4 separate regions of the Homo sapiens genome follow, and all the other regions are linked to region 3. Evidence: fine-mapped expression QTL. A gene starts in region 3. Each other region holds a variant in brackets. All regions are shown on one strand. Distances are from middle to middle. Region 1 overlaps ABLIM3 (actin binding LIM protein family member 3). Region 2 overlaps ABLIM3 (actin binding LIM protein family member 3). Region 3 holds the start of ABLIM3 (actin binding LIM protein family member 3). Region 4 overlaps SH3TC2-DT (SH3TC2 divergent transcript).

The links. PIP is the estimated chance that this variant, and not a neighbour inherited with it, causes the effect. A credible set is the group of variants that fine-mapping cannot tell apart.
Region 1: its variant is the best candidate, but not a certain one, in a credible set for the expression of ABLIM3 in whole blood (INTERVAL, PIP 0.57).
Region 2: its variant is the best candidate, but not a certain one, in a credible set for the expression of ABLIM3 in prefrontal cortex (BrainSeq, PIP 0.79).
Region 4: its variant is the best candidate, but not a certain one, in a credible set for the expression of ABLIM3 in whole blood (GTEx, PIP 0.53).

The regions. Positions count from the first base shown.
Region 1 is chr5:149,160,453-149,166,068 of GRCh38, reverse strand. The region is part of intron 2 of ABLIM3 (actin binding LIM protein family member 3); the gene reads right to left. Among named protein-coding and RNA genes, the nearest start is that of ABLIM3, 22 kb to the right of the region's middle. The variant C/GC (reference allele first, on the strand shown) is at 2,651.
Region 2 is chr5:149,224,004-149,229,619 of GRCh38, reverse strand. All of the region lies in intron 8 of ABLIM3 (actin binding LIM protein family member 3), which reads right to left. Among named protein-coding and RNA genes, the nearest start is that of AFAP1L1, 45 kb to the left of the region's middle. The variant TTTTTTG/G (reference allele first, on the strand shown) is at 2,544.
Region 3 is chr5:149,138,180-149,143,795 of GRCh38, reverse strand. ABLIM3 (actin binding LIM protein family member 3) reads right to left here and starts at 2,303. Exons shown (of 24, transcript NM_014945.5): 1 at 2,142-2,303; 2 at 1,688-1,787. The coding sequence starts at 1,700. It overlaps LOC124901102 (a long non-coding RNA gene), which reads right to left and starts at 1,680. Exons shown (of 2, transcript XR_007058988.1): 1 at 1,007-1,680; 2 at 198-363. RefSeq lists enhancers at 881-1,380, 1,381-1,882 and a silencer at 2,188-2,437.
Region 4 is chr5:149,089,184-149,094,799 of GRCh38, reverse strand. The region is part of intron 2 of SH3TC2-DT (SH3TC2 divergent transcript); the gene reads right to left. Among named protein-coding and RNA genes, the nearest start is that of SH3TC2-DT, 29 kb to the right of the region's middle. The variant A/G (reference allele first, on the strand shown) is at 2,760.

The DNA of each region.
Region 1 (5,616 bases), 22 kb before region 3:
AGAATACTATGTGAGCCAACTAAAACACATTTATGGATCATTTTCTCACCCAGGCCATGAGGACAAAATAAACTTTGGTGCCATTGCCAGGTTAAATATGCTTAGATTCTAAGCAAATAAAAGCAACCCTTTGAGGGGTTTTTGATTTTCAAAGTATCTTAACATCATATCTCATATTTTTGTTATTCAATAGCATAGTCAGGACTAGCACCCGGTACTTGTGACTCTCAGCCTAGTGTTCACAGGACAGCTGCTGATGCCACCACAGCAGAAGAAAGATCTGCACTTAGAGGAGTGGATGGAATGGAATGAAATAAACATGAGTAGTGAAGGGAGGAGAAGTAATCAGAATGAGTGAGCAGGGAGAAAGGTCTTTCCAGGAGGTGCAGTAGACATGACTAGGGCAGCGTACATACAAAAGACAATCCATTTGGAACCACATGCATGATATCAAGTGAACAGCTACTTCAGGGAGATCTTCTTTTGACTTCAAAGGCTTAGGAGCCAATAGATTCCTGTTTCACTTGAGCTAGTTGGAACTGGGTTTTGGTTACTTGTACTCTAAGAGTTCTTACTAATACAAAGTCTTAAAGAGGAGATTAAAGGTTTGCACTATTATAGTGCAAGAACAACCAAAAACAATACATAAATGTATTCCAATAAAATGTATACATAAATGTATTCAATTCAATGCATAAATGTATTCCCAAAAATGTGTTCCAATAAAAATTTATATACAAAGACAGGTAGTGTGTCAGAATTGACCCTTGAGCCATAGTTTATCCACTCTTGCTACAGAATCATTCAATGGGCTAGAGAAGTATACAGAATCATTCAGTGGGCTAGAGAAGAACTGATTATACCTATTTTACAAAGCCTGCTCAGAGGTTATTTGCCTGGGTTATTAGACTAGATGACCTTGAAGGCCCCTTCCCACTGTGAGATTCAAGGATGCTTTGAATTGATTTTGTCTTAAGTATATAGAGGTAGAATCTCTACTTTCAATTCAAGCTATGTTCAGAAACTATGTTTGGAATGAAATGTGTCCTCCAACAAAAAGCCTCCAACCATAATTACCAGTTCTACAACTGAGCATATGTTGATGGAAGCCTCGATTCACAGTGAGCCAGTTAAAATGCAAGAAAGGGACAGCTAGCAGATCTTTCAAGTTAGAGTCCAGGCTGTTAATTACTTTTGTAAAAGAAATACATAAACATACAGATGGCAATTACAGTAAATATGATCATCTACATATAAATATAAAAATCCTACCCACTCCTCAAGGCCTATCTCATATGCAACATACTTCTAGAAATACTTCCTGCTTCTCCCCTCCTCCCTCTCCAAATATGAGCTTTCTTTAAAAATCTCATGTCATGCGCTTCTTATGGGTAAGCAGTGGTTCTCAAACGGATGCATTCTCAATCCTGATGCATTCTCAAACGAGTATGCATCAGAATCCTTGGATGTCTTGTTATAACACATGACCCAGGGTTTTTGACTCAGGGGGTCCAGGGTAAGGACTGAAACTGTGCATTTCCAGCAAGTTCCTAGATGATGTTCATCCTGTGGGTCTGGAGACTATATTTTGAGAACCACTGACCTACAGCATAGTTTACCTATAATGTACCTACTTTTTCATTTGTTTTATATCTTTATCAGACTTCAAATTACTTGAGGAGGGATGCTACTCAGTTCTCTGTACCCTGGAGTATTCTTGTGGGCACTCAACAAACATTTGGACACACCTATGGGGTGAGCTGAGGAGTTAAGTTTTTGGTCAGCATAAATGTGACAGCTGTTTCTCACAACAGGTATTCTTGAGCCCGCAAGGAAGGCAAATGCAACACACTCGTTCCCACGAAACAACCAGCACAGGAGATTTCTGTGGCTAAACAACGCTGTAATGGAAATCACAACACAGTCAGGCCCACCATTCTGGTGGAAGAACAAAACCCAAATGAAACCCGTCAAATGGTTATGCAACTTTTACTACATATAACATGGTTACCATGCTTTAGGGGGGTGGGCAATAAAAAATAATAGAAATATTAAAGACTATCTAAATACCCTTTATAGGAAATCCAATAAAAAAGTATGTTGGAAATACAAAATGTTGACTTGTTGTGTGACCAACAAGAAGGGCTCACCTGGGGAAAAACCATCTTCCCTAAAAGCAGCAACAAAGGAAGCAGAGACACCTCCAGACAGTGATGGATAAGCACAGACTTGAAATTAGGGGAAGAGAAAATGTGAGGAGGGACTCCATGTTGGCTGAATTGGGTCCTCCTGTCCCTGTCTCTCTCACCCCCCAAATTCACATGATGAAGTCCCTACCCTCAGTACCTCAGAATATGACTTTATTTGGCAATAGGGTTTTTAAAGAGAAAATTAAGTCAAACTGAGGTCATTAGGATAGGCTCTAATCCAATATGACTGGTGTCCTTATAAGAGGGGATGGGACACAGGCAAGCACAGAGGGACAGCCACGGGAACTCACAGGGGGAAGATGCCCACCTATGTGCCAAGGAGAGAGGACTCAGAAGAAACCAACCTTGCCCATACCTTGATCTTGGACTTCTAGAACCCAGAACTGTGAGAAAATAAATTCCTATTGTTTAAGCCACCCCGTGTGTGGTATTTTGTTATG[C/GC]AGCTCTAGCTAACTAAGATAGACTGTAAATAATTATTTTAAATAGCATAAAGGATATAAAAGCTGTCAGGGAATCAGGACCATGCAATGGCCCTGGAGTAGAAGGTGCCCTGCCCTATCTTCCCAAGTCCCAGCCCCATCATCTGCTGCTTAGAGGATCCCAACATGTTGTAAGGAGTGGTCTCCTTTCCTCACTCATTCTACACACAGTAGCCAGGGGGATACATTCAAAATGCAATCTGATGATGCTTAACCCGGACTCCCACCACCTCCAGTGGCAACTTAAAACCATTCAATGACTTCACTCCACCCTTGGGATAAAGCCAGACTCCTGGCCATGGTCCACAAGGCCCTGTGTGTTCTGGCCCCTGTTGGCCTGCCCAGCCTGTCGCAGACCCTGCTCCCCTCCGGCAGGAGAAAGCAGCCTCACTGGCCTCCTTTCTTTTCCAATGCATCCTGCTCCCTCTCCACACTGGGAGATTCCCACTCCAAAACAGACACGCCAGAGATGCTTCCTGTTCAGCTGGGTTACGCGTCCTAGAAAACACATTTTGAGGCAGGTGGCTTTCAGCAGGGAGAAGTCCTGCCTGCTCATGCCCCACTGCCCTGGTCAGGTTAGCCATCAGGAGAAACTGTCTAAGCAGCAGCTGAAAAGTGTCAAAAGCATTGAGTGAGGGGACTGGCAAAAAAATGAGGCCTACGGAGGGGCACACAGGATGTTCTTCCCAATCTAGATACTGATGAATCCTGGTGACAGCACCATTCATCTGGGAGTTGTAAAAGGAACTGAAAGGTGAAATTGTGGGTCTGTCGGCCAAAATGAGTCACCTGCTCTGACGGGCATGATGAAAGGTTTCTTTCTTTCTGGTCTGGATTGCTCACGCCCTTCCAGACACAAAGAGAAGAAGCAAAGCCTCTATCCTATGGTCACTATTCTGTGTCTCTTTTGATCATCATTTAGTTGTAGAGACTATGCTTTTGGAATGAGATACTGAAACACATGAAGGGATGCATGGCCTAACAGTGGGATGAAATATTTTGAAATTAAGACAATTGTATATGAGGACACTAGACCCACAATGAACTGAGTCTTTTTACCTTGCCCCATTTACCTATAACCCCAATAAAGCTGTGTTTGTCTTGTGCTCAATTTCTGTGTCGAGTTGTATTAAATTTTAATGATTGAAAGAAACACAGCCAGCAACCAAAAGTAATAAAAAAAGCAATTCAAATCTTTTCTGGCTTTATTCTCAAAGAACAGTCAAGGGAGGAAGGCATCTGTTTAATAACCAGCAAAACAGAGGCTAACGCAAAGGCTTTCTCATTCATTGCCTCATTTGATCATCACCAACCACGAATCAGGTGAGGCAAGGATCACTCCGGCTATTTTATAGATGAGCAAACTGAGGCTTGGGGAATTGGGGAATGTGCCCAAACTTCAACACAGGTGTTCTGACTCCTAGTTCAGTAAGCTTTCTTTTCTCTATAGGCGCACACACACACACATACACATACACACACACACACAGCCCACGCATACACACACACACACAAAGTAGACCCCTTTCTACCATTCTGTGCCCTAAAATATTGGCTTTTTTCCTTGGTACTAATGGCAGAAAAAATGACTATTACAATTAAATTCAAGAAACCCCAAGAGATTCATTAACATTTGATTCCCAAACCCCAGCTAAGTGTGGCATTCAAACAGGAAAGGAAAAAATATCAAAGGAACACACAACGATTTTCACTTGCTCAGCCTCTCTAAGCTAGATTAATGCCTCAAAAAAGAAATACTGCCAGAATACCCCTCTTCTAACCAAAGAGGCACTCTGTCCCCAGTCGACTCCAGGAATCCTGGTACAATAATTAACGTGTGGGCCAGAGGCCCAAACTCACTGGCACAGGGCAGATTTTCAGATGAGAAACAGAGAAGCTCCAAATCCTACTCACATAAAGGGCTTATTGACATTATCTGCTGAAAAGAATACAGATTTCAAGAGAGACAGCCAGGCAGAGAGGGAAGGCAGAATTTTGGCCATGGAGGAAGTAGGTGGAGGGAAGGGTGGACTTCTCACCTAGCTCGGAGTCCCTAAGTCTTTCCCGGATCATTCTCTAAGTGTGTACCCTCAAGTGGACTTTGCTACTGGCTAAGGAGCATTTCCCATAGCACTGATGTCACAGACCCAAAACAATCCAGGTCAGCAAACACTTTCCACTGTAAACAGAAGGTTTCAGAGAGCTCCCGCGGGCAGATGAGCTGTGGGTGATGCCCAGGTGCCCTGGGCTAGAGGACAGGCTCCGGACCTGGGACTAACTCAAAGGACAGAAATGGCCTGGGTGAGGGCAGCCACATCCACACCCGGAAAACCCAAGAAAGAAGGTGGTCTGATTATTGGGAAGAGATAGAGGGAGGGGATTAGGGCTAAGAAGCCCCATGGCTGGCCGAGAGATGGGAAAGGAGCTGAATAAGATGATATGAACACGGGCATTCATTCTACTCGCTCTTGGGCCCACTGCTGGGCCTGGGATGAGGAGGGCCCTGGAGATGGAGGACAATTCCCCCATGTTAGACAGTTAGCCTGTGTGTACTTCAGATTCTTCCCAGCCTGGAGGTGCACACAGAACCCCCAGCTTACAGCCCAACAGATGGGCCATCAAGTATAGCCATAACTAGAAAGTGTCTCTGTCTTCCAAAGCACAGGATGTCCTAAGCCTTTCCTGAGTCCCTTGACACAAAAAGCTTTTCCTGAGTGAGCACACTACAGTGACACCAACTTTAACCTGGGGTCATTTTTTGGCACCCACCATGCCCTAGGGAAGACCTGGCTCCAAGCAGAAAGTCCCAAATCAGCACAAGTAGGTTACAAAGTTTATAAACCAAAGTTCATGTTTGTTGGCACAATTATTTATTCATCAATATTTACTGAGTAATTTCCTTCTTTTTTTTTTTTTTTGAGACGGAG
Region 2 (5,616 bases), 86 kb before region 3:
CTAGGATATACTTTATATTATGCTTTGTTGCCTGGAACCCCCAGGACCGGAATACTAGCTAAGGGATGAGATGGTGGTGAAAGGTCAATAAATCGGAGTGAAAAAGAGAAGAGAGGCCTGAAGTGAGGAGGCCTGTGTTTTTTGTCTCTGCTCAGCCCCTAACACATCCTCTCTCTGGGTCCCAGTTTCCTCATCTGAAGAACAATAAGGTGGGATTTGGGTGGCCTTGAAGATTATTTTCATCTCCAAGTTTCTAATTTTACGGGCAGTTTTGTCTTTTGTGGAACAAGAATCTTTGATTTTTGTCTGCCGACATACTTGGGTATTCCTTATTATTCAACTGGGTTTAATTCTTTCTAAAGTAAAATGCAATGGTTCTCAGAGCCCAGTAGAGGGACTCTGAGTCTGTGGCTTGATCCAGCAATCACAGGGTGTGTCCACTACCAAGCTGTGTGTTGGGATTCTTACTTTAGGGAGTTATTAGAGAGAGCGTTTCCGGTTCCTCTCTGAGTTGCTTCCGAATCTATCAGGAATTGTTTATGACTGTGGCTGTGGCAGGAAACACATGTTACAGGTCACTGTAGGAAATGGATGAGATGGACACAGAGGTCTGAGGAGGTCATGAACTTAAGTTAAAGAGACATAGGAAAGATCAAGAGGGCAGAAGTCCTCATACAAGGAAATAATGTGTCAAGCGAGGGGGTCAGACTAGAGGGTCTCTTTTGCTTTCTAACCCCATAACATTGGCATTTCACTCTGAAATAAAACTGAGCCAAAAATGGCCATTAACTTCAGCACTCTGCATACCGGAAAGCATATTTACATAAGAAACAAGGAGAGGAGGATCAAACAAGAAAAAAAATATAATTAGAAATGAAAAAAATCAGAATTTAGGAGTTGGTAGTATATCTGTAAATAAAAGAGGCTAAAAAAAGTTAGTTGGTAGCTAGCAATAAACTTACATAAAGAATGCAAGAAAAGATGATTTGTTCATGAAGATCCCTGTGAAATAACGGTCTTCTGAGCTTATTCCCTAGGCCAATAGCTCAACAATGTGACATTAACAGAAGGATAACATCATGGTGAAGAAGATGGTTATTCTCTTCAGTGGACTTTATCCCCAGAGCCAAAAACAGTGCCTGGCCCATGTGTGTTTAACAAAGAAATGCATGTGAATGACTCATTGGACCCTACCTTTGTATTTTTTTTCAAAAAGATACTAGGTATAATGCACCCATGAGAGGATGGTGACTATCCTAGGAAGGGGACTCAAATGCAATTCTAAGGCTGGGTCTTTACCCTGAAGAAGAGACTTAACAGAATGGTGAAAGCTGATTTTACAGATTTTAATGACTCTCTGTAGGAAGAGGCATTCATTTGTTTTGTAGAACTAGGACTAAGGGCAGAAGGTTCAGGCAAGGAACATTTAACACCTAAGAACTGAATGGCCTTATTCAACTGACAGTAAGCCCTTGTCCCTAAAAGTGTTTAAGTACACATTGGGTATATAAATGCTCAGCAGTGATATTAGGAAGGAGACTCAGCACACAGTACTTACACTAAGGGATGTTTACCAGCCCCCAAATCCTTAGAGATTCTGTTTCCATCTTAACAGGTTTTACTGTACCGAGAAGATAATTATTTGCCCCACCCATTTATCCTGATAAGAATGTAAATTCTATGAGGAGAGGATTCATGTCTGTTATACCTACAGATATATCTGCAGGAACTGCAGATTCTCAATAAATACTCATTGAGTGAATAAATAAACAAAAGAAACATGGCATTCTATCTTAGGCAGTTGGCTTCTCTAACTTGGGCCCAGAGATTTGGACAAGTAGTACAATCTAGACTCTGATTAGACAGCCACAACTCCAGACTGAGTCTACAAACATATTCACTATATTGGGGTGTGTCAAACTGTGACCTGTGGATCACCTGTCTTGCAGTCTGGTAAAATTCAGATTCCTGGGCCCCCCTGCAGAAGCCACTGACGCCAACTCCCTGGAGGTGGGACCTGGGAATCTGTGATTTAACAAGCTCCCCAGGTGATTTTATGACTCATAATTTGAGAACCACAGGGCTAAATACCAGATAACACTCTAAATTTATTTTCTTGGAATGTTATGTGATAAAGAAACCAATTTTATAAGGCAGAGCTCTAGCTTTTTGTAAGAGTACAACATTTTCTGCTTGTTCAACTCCTGGTTCCATGAGTCACTTCCTCCTGTCCTCTGAGATTGTCACCCACAATTCCAGGCTCTGCAGTTAAAACCTACTATGAAGGTTATGGAAGTGAAGGATTAGCTATTTCTGTATCAGCTGACTCAGAGATAGAGATGTTAATCTCCAAAACTATCTGTCAGCCAGGTATTAAGGCCATTTTTAATCGTTAGCAGAGTCAGCAGTCAGTCTTATCTCTCTGATTGGTTATAGCACACTCCACACCTGTAACATTTGGGGCTGATTTAATGTTGGGGAAGCCACCCACCTCTCTGCTACACCCTGATGTTAAATTTGCCAAGGCTTTTTTTTTTTTTTTT[TTTTTTG/G]AGATGGAGTTTCGCTCTTATTGCCCAGGCTGGAGTGCAATGGCACGATCTTGGCTCATTGCAACCTCTGCCTCCTGGGTTCAAGTGATTCTCCTGCCTCAGCCTCCTGAGTAGCTGGGATTACAGACATGCACTACAACACCCGGCTAATTTTGTATTTTTAGTAGAGATGGGGTTTCTCTGTGTTGGCCAGGCTGGTCTCAAACTCCCAACCTCAGGTGATCTGCCCGCCTCGGCCTCCCAAAGTGCTGGGATTACAGGGATGAGCCACCATGCCCGGCCAATGCTTTTTGTTTTTTAATGCCAAAGCTGGAGTTGGTATCATAGTCTTCTAGAATGTTGGCATTCTAGAGGTTACAAGTACAGTGATTGAAAGTGGTCCATTGGACGGTTCTGTTTAGTAAGCATGATTTTAAACAGTTCTGAGTCTGAAGGTTTTTAGATACTGCAGGTCACCAGTGACCCTCCCTACTTTCTGACTCCCAGCCCTTCCCACTCCTTGACGTGGGCATTGGAGTTTTTGGCCTTGACCCTAGCTAGGGCATTCTCTTACGGCAGGTTTCCTCTCTGGATTTCTTTTTTTGTTTTGAGACGGAGTCTCGCTTTATCACCAGGCTGGAGGGGAGTGGTGTGATCTAGGCTCACTGCAACCTCTGCCCCCAGGTTCAAGCGATTCTCCTGCCTCAGCCTCCCGAGTAGCTGGGACTACAGGTGCATGCCACCACACTCGGCTAATTTTTTGTATTTTTAGTAGATACGGGGTTTCACCATGTTAGCCAGGATGGTCTCGATATCCTGACCTCATGATCCACCCTCCTCAGTCTTCAAACTGCTGGGATTACAGGTGTGAGCCACTGCGCCTGGCCTCTGGATTTTTTTTTCACCATAGCAGGATGAGGTTTCTCAGACCTCTGCCTTTATGACAGCAGCACTATCTTTGTGGCAATAGACTGGGAGGAACCTTGGAACTGCTCCTTTAAAATCTCCATGCACATAAACCAACCCAAATGCCCATCAATCAATGAGTAGATAAAGAAACTGTGATATATATATATATATATATATATATATATATATATATATATATACACACACACACACACACACACACATATTATATACATACATACATATATATATATATATGTATATATGATGGAATACTACTCAGCCATAAAGGAAACAAAATAATGGCATTTGCAGCAACCCAGATGAAATTGGAGGCCATTATTCTAAGTAAAGTAACTCGGGAATGGAAAACCAAACATTGTATGTTCTCATTCATAAGTGAGAGCTAAGCTATGAGGATGCAAAAGCATAAGAATGACACAATGGACTTTTGGGGCTCAGGGGGAAAGGCTGGGAAAGGGGTAGGGGATAAAAGACTACAAATTGGGTGCATTGTATACCACTCAGGTGATGGGTGCACTAAAATCTCACAAAACGTCACTGAAGAACTTCCAAACACCATCCTGTTCCCCAATTACCTATGGAAATAAAAATTTTTTTAAAAAATCTTCATCCACATAAAAAATGTGGTAGATCCAAAAATGGAATATTGTTCAGCCATAAAAGGAATGACCTGCTGATACCTGCTATTATACGGATGAACCTAGAAAGCATTATTCTCAGGGTGAGAAGCCAGTCACAAAAGAACATATATTGTATGGTTCCATCTGTAAGAGCTATACAAAATTGGCAAATCCATAGAGACAGAAAACAGATTGGTGACTGCCAGGGGTTCGGGGACAGAGGAATGGGAAATGACTGCTTAATGGCATGTATGAGGTTTCCTTTTGAAGTGATGAAAATGATTTGGAACTAGATAGAGGTGGGGGTTGTACAACATTGTGAATGCACTAAAAGCTACCGAATTGTGCGCTTTAAAATGGTTAATTTTGTGTTATGAGAATTTTACATTAACATAAAAAATTTCCCACTCCTCTCCTCCCAGCAGGTGAATTGCTTCTGTAGACCAAGGCACTCTGTTCCTCCTTTGCTACTGAAAGTGCCAAACTCGGCCAGAGAGAGGAGTGAACACTGCTGTTGAATCTGCCCTGTAATAACAACAGTGTGATCATTATAATCTTGGGTGTTAGTAAATCTTTACTGGTATCAGGCACTCTGTGCATCATTTCATGTAATATTCTTAAGGGGTTCCAATCCTGGCTACATCATTTACTAGCTGCATTGTCTAGAGCAAGTCAGTTGCCTCTCTGTGCCTTGGTTTCCCTATTTATAAAACAGGGATGACAACAGTATCTGCCTCATAGGTTTGGTTTGAGGATTAATGAGTTAATCCATGCCCAGCACTTAGAACGGTGTCCGCCTATGTCAGGGACTATATAAGTGTTGGGTATTGTTGTTCTTATTGTCTCCTCTCCTCCACCTACAAAAATAATCTGTGTGCCAGGATCTAGTTTGGGTAAGGGGAGAGCAGTAAAAGGGAGACTTGAGGGGAGCAGGGAGCTGGGGCCTGGGTGAGCGAGGGGGCTGCAGCACATGGCAGGCTGGCTATGCAGGTGGAGTCACTGAACAGAAGCCTGGCTTGGTTGCCAGCGCACCCTCCTGGGAGGTTGGGCTTGTGCCCAGGGACAAGGGCACCTCGGGAGAAGTGGGAAAGACCTACTTGCCTGGAGCTGACATGATGAAGTGGGCCTGAAGCTTAATAAAGAGGTTGGAGGGAGAAAAGTGTTTAGTTACCATGAGGCTGGTTACCATGGAGGATATCGGGCAGGATGAGAAGGGGAAAATGGCAATTCTGAGGTGCCTTGTAATTCACGAGAAATAATAGGTGCTGATAATAACAGTTGGGACAGTAATTAAAGTATATTGAGTGCTTAGTATGTGCCAGGCCCTAAGTATTCTTATTATTCCTATTGTTACTATTATAACTAATATTTATAGAGTGTCGATACCAGGCCTTGTGTCACACACTTTATAACAATAGTGCTTAAATATAAAAAATAATAACTGCCATTTATTGAGTATATATGCTGCACCTTATGCTAAGTATTCTTAAAAATGCTGATAATATTGACAACAGCAAGCACTTACTACTGCATTG
Region 3 (5,616 bases):
CTAGCTGATAGAGGCTACAGGATTTTCCTCTTTTCCTGAGCCTGGTATGAAGCCAAAACACCATTCCAGCCTGTCAAAATCAAAAGGCAAAATTCTTTGGCTGTAAGAGGCAGAGGGAGTCCAGCCACACTCGCTAGCTTAGCATAGATATGCAATACACAAAGGAAGACAGCAGAGAGATGAATCATACAAATACGTAGTAAATAAATATATTTTATTTTCATCTCAGTAGCTTTTGCTTTTTTTTTTCTCTTCCATGCTAGGAGGTGGGGGTGGGGTGGGGTGTGTGAGGAAATAGTAGGTTTTGGCTGGATACAGCTTCAATAAGGTCTTGATAGTTCTGGCCTTGTTGCTCAGCTCTAGCTTTTTAAGAAAAAAAGTGTAGATTCTTAGATTAGAAGGCTTTCTTTTATTATTATTATTATTATTTTTTGAGACAGAGTCTCACTCTGTCGCCCAGGCTGGAGTGCAGTGGTGTGATCTCGGCTCACTGCAACCTCTGCCTCCCAGGTTCAAGCAATTCTCCTGCCTCAGCCTCTTGAGTAGCTGGGATTACAGGCCCACACCACCACACCTGGCTAATTTTTGTGTTTTTAGTAGAGACGGGGTTTCATCATGTTGGTCAGGCTGGTCTCGAACTCCTGACCTCGTGATCCACCTGCCTCTGCCTCCCAAAGTGCTGGGATTACAGGCATGGAACACGGTGCCTGGCCGATTAGAAGGCTTTCTAATTCAACCCCTCTCATCATACAGATGAGCAGTCTGAGATGCAGAGAGGGGACTGATAACAAAGTCATAGACCCAGGGAAGTGACTGTTCATAGGGGTTCTCTGGTTCAACAGCCCTATGCGATGCTGGAATAACCTAGACAGGCCAAGCTGACAAGAGGGCAGGAGAGTGAGTCTGGAACCAAGATATGCCCTCCCAGGTCACAGCGCTACATTGAAGAGAAACAGACTGTGCCTTCTTGAATTTCGGACTGCATTCTCAGTAGCTGAGGCCCTACCTGGCAGCAAAATATCTGGTCCTGGCTCTGCAAGCAGTTGTTGCCTCTGGCATGTTAGAGCCCTTGGCCAAAGGGCTGTTCCTGTCTTCTTGTTCTCAAGGATAGCTAACCAGCCTGCAGGTACATAGAGAAACCAGCCCTGGGCCCACCGGGCTGCAGGCACTCGGGAGCTGGATCTTTCACAATCTCCAGACCCAAAGGTGGCTTGGCGATTATTTGTTTATCAAACTGCGGCTTCCCAGCCCACTGCCTGCCCACACCCACCTACCCTCCCGCCTGCCCACAGGCCAGCCTCCCTGCTCTTCCCACCTCTGGGACAGGCAGGGCCCTCCATGGTTTTCCAGATGTGTGCAGGGAGTTCTCCTCAGAGCCCCCACAGTCAGACAATGGCCACACACTGCTTCCTAGGCCTTCCCAGGCAGTGCTAGAAGGAGACGAGCAGCCTTCCCAGGAGAGGCGGCCGGCGCCGCTGATAAAATATTGGCAAAATTATCACGAAAAGCCAGAGTCATGAAGCTATCCCTCTGCCAAGGAGCACGGAAAGCACCAAAAAAGAGCCTGGGGGTCATGTGTCCAGAGATGCCAGGCTTCCTTCCTCTTTCCAGGCAGCCCGAGCGCAGGCTCCCTCACCTCCCGCCCCCACCCCTGTTCCCATGGCAAAGGAGAGGAGGATCCACTTACTGCTAGTGTTCATGGTGATGTCTTTGCACTGGGTCTTTCATTCAATACGGAGGCCCCGGCTGCTTTTTAAATCTTCCGTTCTTCGAACCTCACTCATCACCTGGGGGGTGAAAAGGCAGTCCAGTGCCAGCTCTGTATCCTCAGGTGCTCTCTCTCCCTCTGCTGTCCCCTCTCTGTCTGGGCTGTAGCCCCTGGCCTTGAAGGCGCGTGGACTAATAGGCGCAGGTGAGAGCAAGGAGAAGGAGGCGGCAGGACACCGGCGCCCCGGTCCTCCTGCTCCTCAGATTGGAATCCCGGGCAGAAGTGGGGTTGGCAGCGCCTGCTCGCGCGCACCCCGGACTATTCCTGCCCAGCGGCTCCGGAGCCCAAAGGGGGTGTGGACCACAGGGAGGCAGGGCGGGGGCAGCGCGTCCCCGCCCGGCTTCAAGGAGCAGCGACCCGCCCCGGAACCCACCTCTCGGCCAGTGTCGGGAGCCAGAGGCCCCTGCCCCGGCCCCTGCGACTGATTTCATGAATCCTGGTCCTCGTCTGGGGTCTCGAATTCCAGGGCTAGCAATGCGAAATAGGGGAGCTCGACATCCATGATGCGGGCTCGCGGGTTGGCAGCGCAGGGGGCGCGGCCGCTCGCTGCTGCCACCTGCTGGACGCACCGGCGCGTGTCCGAGGCCCCGCCCCGCCGGGCTTCTGCCTGGGCCCTAGGGTGTGATGGGAGATGGACGAGGCCTTGTGAGATGGACGAGGCCTTGTGTCCTGGGACCAACGAGGGAGTGCTTGAGCGCTTGTTTTCCCTCCCTCGATCCTGGGGTTCTAAGGGCTCGACAATGATAGGAAAAGAAACATCATTAGGAGGGGCCGTGAAGGAAAACCTGGCTTTGCAGGAAGACAGTTTCCACCCGGCTCTGCTCTGGCAAGCTTGGCGCAGTCTAGGCTCAAGCCGGTCACTACCGTCTCTGCCTCATCTTTCTCAACTATGAATATGGCGTCTGGACAAGTGGATAACACGTAAGGGGCTCTTCCAGCCTCCCAGCGTTTATGTCCCCTCTTCCCTCACAGATTCCCTTTATCCTCTATCGCTGATTCATCATTAGAATTGTTTATTACCTCTTTTCCCCACGAGAATGTTAGCTCCGTGAAAGAATGGGTCTGTCCGTAGGGTTCACCTACAGGCCCCCAATACCTAGCACAGGGCCCGGCATATAGTGGCTACCAATAAATATTTGTTGACAGAGCAACCCAGACATTTTCTGGGTTTAATATTACACAGCCCTAAGAGTAGACTGCCTAGGCGCCCCACCCTGAAACACTTCCCCGTCTGAGGAGAACAGCAGGTATGTGGCCTCACAGGTCCACCCTAGTTTTCATATGGTCAACTAACTCTTCCCCCAAGTTGTTGTTGTTTTTTTTTTTTTTTTTGTAATTATGTCTTATACGTGTGTATTGTAGAAGTTTATATTCCAAAGTGTTTTAGTCACAATTGATTCAGTGGGGTAGGGCTCTTTACATTCCTGTGACTACTTACTCTGTCACTTTCTGAACCTAATTCATGATCATAGAAGCATGACTTTTGAGTGCTGAAAAACAAGACTGTGAGGGCACATGATCCTTGTCTATAGCATGACTTCAATTAGAGCATGTGCAGACTCAAAAGGCTGTGAACACTCACAGCCCCAGCTTAGACAAGGAAACAGGGTGTCAGAGAGGCTGGGCAACGTGCCCTAAGACACACAGCATCTTGTGGCAGAATCGGACCAGATCTTCTCACTTCTAGCTTGATCCTGTGTGAGAGTGGCTCAGTGCACTAAAGTCTGGGATATCAGTGTGAGATTAGATAGCTGCCCTATTAAAATTGGGGAAAGACAAATACGATGTTTTTATACAATGCTTTTAGATAAATACAACGTTTCTACCTTACACAGGGAGGAAAAAAAGGATATGGCTCATGACCCCGAGAGGTGATCAGGATTAAAGAATCTTTGGATAAACCTAAGGATCAATAGATTTGAAACACATTTGATAGATTGTTAAGAATTTTGTCCACATGTTCTCACTCATAAGTGGGAGTTGAACAATAAGAGCACATGGACACAGGGAGGGGAACATCACACACTGGGGCTTGTTGTGGGATAGGGGACTGGGGGAGGGATAGCATTAGGAGAAATACCTAATGTAAATGATGAGTTGATGGGTGCAGCAAACCAACATGGCACATGTATACCTAGGTAACAAACCTGCACGTTGTGCACATGTACCCTAGAACTTAAAGTATAATAATAATTTTTTAAAAAAGAATTTTGTCCAATGGGGTGGAGGTAAAAATAGCCCTAATGTCCTCACGGTCGTTCTTAAAATTTTGTGTCGATAACAAACGCCTGAGATACCTCCAAAAATGCAGATTCCCAGGCCCTGGACTCCCTTGCTCAGCATTTGAAACAAGCATCCCAGGTGATTCATAGACAGCTCTTTGAAAAGGGTAGAGGCCTAAAATAGCTTTGAAAACGTAAGTGATTAGTAAATATTTAAATTATTCCACTTTATGTGTCCTCTACATTTTCAGATGGGATTCCTTGTTCAGTTTCCAAGTTGCAGGTAACTTGCTAGATTCTAATGCTTGGAAAAACATTTTTCTGGGAGAAAGTTCAGATAAATTAGACATGTAAAATTAACTGTTCTATTCCATGAGCATATTTAGTTATCACCCAAGGCCTCAATGTTCAGAAAATTTCAAATTATAAGAAATAGTCAAATGAAAGCATGATATTCATTCATTAGTTCATTCACTCAGCAATTATTTATCGAGGGTATGCTTTGTGGTAGCCCCAGTGCTGGCTTCTGGGGATACCGTGGAGAACAGGACAGACAAGAGCTCTACCCAATAATGGATGATTGCAGAAAAAATAAAAAATAAAGAAATAAAAAGAACTCCAACCTCATAAGCATAAATCCAATCCTGGGACAGCGGGGAGACAATTAACTAAGCAAAATATAAATTAGCTAAACCCGATGGTGGCCTGGGGAAGAGCCCAGGTGCCGTTTCCAGCCTTCCTGACTTTTAATCTCAGCTTCATCACTTTCTAGCTGTCTCACTTTGGGGAAGATACTTAGCCTCTATAAGCCTCAAAGTTTTCATCTGTACAAGGGTACAACCACAGTGCCTACCTTTTGGATTGTCGTATATATTAAAGGACTTAGTGTAATGCATGACAAATAAAGGCTGGTTGCATACTAATTATTAATATCACCCCTCACTTATACCTGCCCTCAGTGACAATGCTGTCATTTTCTACTTATGGAAATCTGTTGGGCTTTTCCACAGAGTGGTGGCCACGAAAATATGCCTGAAAATTTTCAGGTGATTAATTAATTGATAAATTAATTGATGAATTAATGAATTAATTATTCATCAATTAATGAGATTAATTGATGAATTCTTCTTGTCTGGGGTTCTTTTCGATAATGTATCCAGCTAGATGCTGATGACTTCACCTCTTAGAAGAGATCACTGGGTCTTGGGCCACTTTTTAAGGCCCAAATAACATCTGCCGGGGGAACAATCTTATTTTCTCTGCATAGTTTATAAGGATAGGAAAAAAGGGGCTAAAATAAGCTATACAAGCTATGCCCTTGAGGATGTCCACAACAATCAGAGGCAGCGGGAAAGACGCAGGAGGAAGCTGGGGGTGGGATTCTCTGTGGACATGGCTGTGAAAGTCATCAGGGGATCGGTGTTGTTGACTCTGTCCTTGCAGGAGAATGGAGCTGAGAACCACAGAGCAGAGGATCCCTTTGTCTGGAAGTTTGTTTTGAACATTAAGACTCCAGAATGGAGATAAACAAATCTCACCGGGAAACTGGCAAAGGCTCTGGGTGTTGAAAAACCATGTGGCAAAATCATTGGGAGACAAACCTTCCAACTTCTCTGAGGGGAAAAA
Region 4 (5,616 bases), 49 kb after region 3:
TGTTTGGAGGCAGACTTTCTCCTCTCACAGTTTGCAGCAGCAAGCTGCTTCCTTCAAAGGGTCTGTGAATTATTTTGGTTTTCCTGGTTGTTCTTTTGGTGGTTCTTGGAGCAAACATTCACTGTGTAAGTCTCCACATGCTGCTCTGCCAATCCAAGTAGGAACTGCAAGTTAGTCCTTCCTCCTAGCTGCCATTTTCCCTCCTACTCTAACATCATTATTTTGAGTATTTTATCTGGGATTTCATAGATTTCCTTTTGACTGAACTCTATTGCTGGAGAATTACTGTGTTCTCTTGGAGGTGTCATATTCTCTTGCTTTTTCATGTTTCATATGTTTTTACATTGATGTCTATGCATCTGGTGTAACAGTTGTTTCTTTCAATTTTTGAAATTTGCTTTCATAGGGGAGGGTACTTTTTTGAAGATGTATCTATGGTGTTGGTTGGGTCGGGCACTTTGCCATTGATTTTGGATGTGTGCAGCAGTGTGGTCTCCATATGATTTCTTCAGCTGTAAACATCGTCAGTGGTGTCTGTGATTTCCTGAGTGGCTTAGGGTGCAATTGTTAGTGGAGTGGAGACTGTGGCAAAGTTTTGCTGGATACAGCAATGCCAGGTGGTCCTATCTTCAGACCTCTGTGGTGGCAGCAGTGGGCTGAGCATGCCTGCCCTTGGGCTCCAGGGTGGCATATATTGGCACTGGTTTCAGTGGTTCCAGGCAGTCCAATTCTTGGATCCCCAGGTGGCTTTCTCAGGTGCTGGTAGTAGCAGAGTTGGGCTAGGCAAGCGGGTGGGTTTTCAGGCCCCTGGGCAATGGTCATGGCATGGATGATTGTAGTAGCAGTAGATGGACTAATCTCTGGGTCCTACATGGTCTGTACTTGTGTTGACAGTGGCTGTGATGTGCTGGGTGGGCCAGTCCGTAGGCCTATAGGTGTGTGCCCACTGTGGTGGTAATGGCAGGTTGGGTGGGCTTGAACTCAAGCTTCCAGGAGGAGTGCTCAGGTGCCAACAATGGTGGACTGGGCTGGGTGGTCCCCAGGTCTCTGGACCACATGCTCTGGTACTGGTGGTGGGGGAGCAGAGCAAGGCTGGGCAAACTGGTCCTTAGTCCTCCCAGGGGTACTTGCAGGTACTAGCTGTGGTAGGCAGAGGCAGGGTGAGCCTTAGGCCCACTGGTAGCATGTGTGGGTGAGTATCAACTGCAGTGGCAGTGGCAGGCCGAATGAGCCTCACCTCAGGCCCCTGGGAGAAGGGCTCAAGTGCCAATGGTGATGGACTGGACTAAGCAGTCTCCAGGTCCCTGCACTGTGTGCTCTGGCACTAGGAGGTTTGGGTGGTGGAGTGAGCCACGCAATTGTGTCCTTTAGGTCTGCTAGTGGGGCTTGCAGGTGCTGGCTATGGTTGGCAGGGGTGGGGTGATCTCCAGGCCCAAGGCAGAATGTTCAGGTGGGGACTGCAGTGGCTGCACTCCAGGCCTGCTCAGGGCTTGTGGGAAGGGCAGGGTTGCTTTTAGTGGCAGGAGCCATATGCAGGTGGCTGGGGAGTATGCATTTTGCTCATGCTTGAATCCTGGCAGTGGCAGCCATAAGCAGCTGTTGAGGGTAGGGGGGTTTGTCATTGCGATGCATGAAAATATGCAGTGGCTTCATTGTGGGGGGCAGTGGGGTTTTGCTAATGGCTTACTCTTCTGCCTTGGAGTCTGTGGTCTCTTGGAAGCTGGGCTCTCAATATGGCATTTTGCTGTAGCTGCTTAGGGCTTGGGGTGTGTGGGGCCCAGCATGAGCTCTCTTTCTGGAACAATGCCTTTGATCTTCAGGCAGCTTTTGATATTAGTCTTGAAGACTGCAAGGGTCTAGGGCTTTCCCATGCAGAGGATGCAGGAGTCTATAGTGGAAATGTTAATCTCTGGGAATCACTCACTCATTCTTTCGCTGCATTGTGGAGCCTCTCCAGGCTCCCAGCCAATCCTGGCCAAGCAGACTGCCTGACTTCCCTCTGCTTCCTTGCTTTGGATTTTCCTGTCATTTCTCAGTTGAATTCCAGTGTAGTTTCTTAGATGATATATTCAAAGTGTTCTACTCTATTTAGATTCTTCTTTGTGGAGGAGGCAAGCACCAGATGCCTTTAGTCAGCCATCTTGAAGCCTCGCAATTCACCTATTTAAATTGTACAGTTCAGTGATTTTTAGTATAATCACATAGTTGTGCAACCATCATCACAATCAATTTTAGAACATTTGTGACATGTCATAAAGAAAGCTTGTGCCCTTTAGCTATTACTCTTCAATTCCCCCATACCTCCCAGCCCCAAGCAACTACTTACTGTGTGTATAGATCTGCCTATTCTGGACATTTCAAAGAAGTAGAATCATACATGCAGCATGTGGTCTTTTGTAATTGGCTTCTTTCATTTAGCATAATGTTTTTAAGGTTTATCTATGTTGTACCATGTATTGGTATTTCATTTATTTTTATTGGGGAATAATATTCTATTGTATGCATATACCACATTTGTATTCATTCATTAATTACCAGGCATTTGGATTGTTTCTACCTTTTGGCTATTATGAATAATGTAACCATAAACATTCATGTGCAAGTTTCTGTGTGAACATAACTTTTCATTTTTCTTGGGGATACAAAACTAGCAGTAGAGTTGCTGGATCAAATAATAACTCTTATGTTTAACATGACTGTATTAGTCCATTTTCATGCTGTTGACTGATAAAGGCATACTCGAGACTGGAAAGAAATAG[A/G]TACTTAATTGGACTTACAGTTCCATATGGCTAGAAGGCCTCAGAATCATGGCAGGAAGCGAAAGGCACTTTTTACATGGTGGTGGCAAGAGAAAATGAGGAAGATGCAAAAGTAGAAATCCCTGATAAAACCATCAGATCTTGTGAGACTGATTCACTACCACGAGAACAGTATGGGGGACTCCACCACTCTGATTCAAATTATCTCCCACTGGGTCCCTCCCACAACATATGGGAATTGTGGGAGTACAACTCGAGATGAGATTTGGGTGGGGACACAGAGCCAAGCCATATCATTCCACCCCTGGCCCCTCCAAATCTCATGTCTTCACATTTCAAAACTAATCATGCCTTCCCAACAGTCCCCCAAAGTCTTAACTCATTTCAACATTAACTCAAAAGTCCACAGTTCAAAGTCTCATCTGAGACAAGGCAAGTCCCTTCTCTCAATGAGCCTGTAAAATCAAAAGCAAGCTAGTTACTTCCTAGATACAACGCGGGTACAGGTATTGGGTAAATACAGCCATTCCAAATGAGATAAATGGGCCAAAACAAAGGAGTTACAGGGCCCATGGAAGTCTGAAATCCAGTGGGGCAGTCAAATTTTAAAGCTCCAAAATGATCTCCTTTGAATTCAGGTCTCACATCCAGGTCATGCTGATGCAAGAGGTGGGTTCCCATGGTCTTGGGCAGCTCCACCCTTGTGATTTTGCAGGGTACAGCCTCCCTCCCAGCTGCTTTCACAGGCTGGTGTTGAGTGTCTGTGTCTTTTCCAGGCACATGGTGCAAGCTGTAGGTTGATCTACTATTCTAGGATCTGGAGGATGGGGGCCCTCTTCTCACAGCTCCACTAGGCAGTGCCCCAGTAGAGACTCTTTGTGGGAGCTCTAACCCCACATTTCCCTTCTGCACTGCCCTAGCAAAAGTTCCTCATGAGAGCCCTATTTCTGCAGCAAACTTCTGCCTAGGCATCCAGGCATTTCCATACATCTTCTGAAATCCAGGCCAAACCATAATTCTTGACTTCCATGCACTCGTAGCCTCAACACCACGTGGCAGCTGCCAAGGCTTGGGGCTTGCACCCTCTGAAACCATGGCCTGAGCTCTGTGTTGGCCCCTTTCAGTGGCTGGAACACAGAGCCCAAGTCCCTAGGCTGCACACAGCATGGGGACCCTGGCCCTGTCCCACAAAACCATTTTTTCTTCCTAGACCTGCAGGTCTGTGATGGGAGAGGCTGTCATAAAGATCTCTGATATACCCTGGAGACATTTTCCCCATTATCTTGAGGATTAACATTCAGCTCCCTGTTACTTATGCAAATATCTGCAGCCAGCTTGAATTTCTCCTCAGAAAATGGGATTTTCTTTTCTACCACATTGCCAGGCTGCAAATTTTCCAAATTTTTATGCTCTGCTTCCCTTTTAAAATGGAATGCTTTTAGCAGCACCCAAGTCACCTCTTGAATGCTTTGTTGCTCAGAAATTTCTTCCACGAGATACCCTAAATCATCTCTCTGAAGTTCAAAGTTCCACAAATCTCTAGAGCAGGGACAGAATGCTGCCAGTCTCTTTGCTAAAACATAACAAGAGTCACCTTTGCTCCAGCTCCCAACAAGTTCCTCATCTCCATCTGAGACCACCTCAGCCTGGATTTCATTGTCCATATCATTATCAGTATTTTTGTCAAAGCTATTCGACAAGTCTCTAGAAAGTTCCAAACTGTCCCACATTTTCCTGTTTTCTTCTGAGCCCTCCAAACTGTTCCAACCTCTGCCTGTTACCCAGTTCCAAAGTTGCTTCCACATTTTTGGGTATTTTTTCAGCAATGCCTCACTCTACTGGTACCAATTTACTGTATTACTCTGTTTCATGCTGCTGATAAAGACATACCAGAGACTGGGAAGATAAAGAGGTTTAATTGGACTTACACCTCCACATGGTTGGGGAGGCCTCAGAATTATGGCAGGAGGGGAAAGACATTTTTTATGTGGTGGCAGCAAGAGAAAATGAGGAAGATGAAAAAGCAGAAACCCCTGATAAAATTATCAGATCTTGTGAGACTTATTCACTACCACAAGAACAGTATGGGAGAATCCACCACGATGATTCAAATTATCTCCCAGTGGGTCCCTCCTACAACACGTGGGAATTATGGGAGTACAATTCAAGATGAGTTTTGGGTGGGGACACAGAGTCAAACCATATCAATGATGAAGAACTAACAGACTGGATTTTAAAAGTGGCTGCACCATTATACATCCCCACCACCATTGTATTAAGGTTCTGATTGCTCCACATCCTTGCCAATACTTGTTATTTTCTGGCCTTTTGATTGTAGCCATCTTAGTGGGTATAAAGTGGTATCTCATTGTGGTTTGGATTTGGCTTTCCCTGAGGACTAATGATGTCAATCATCTTTCCATGAGCTTATTGGCCATTTATATATCTTCTTTGGAGAAACATTTGTTCAGTTCTTTTGTTTATTTTTAAATTGGTTTATTTTACTTTGATTTTTAAATTGTAAGAATTCTTTATATGTTATAGATATGTGTATATATATATTTATTTATATATTCTATATTATATCAGATATAAGATTTGCAAATTTTGTCTTCTTGGGTTGTCTTTTCAGTTTCTTGATGGTGTTCTTTGAGGCACAAAAGTTTTTCATTTTGATGATGTCCCCAGCATCTCAAAATTAACAAAATGCTTCCAAAGATACTTCTGAATTTCCTCTCACAGCCACTCTGTAAAGCACATAGGGCAGAGATTATGTTTCAATTTCATAATTGATGAATGCACCCTTGGACAAGCTGCTCAGCCTCTCAGCCTCGTGATGAGGCAGAGGGGCAGAATC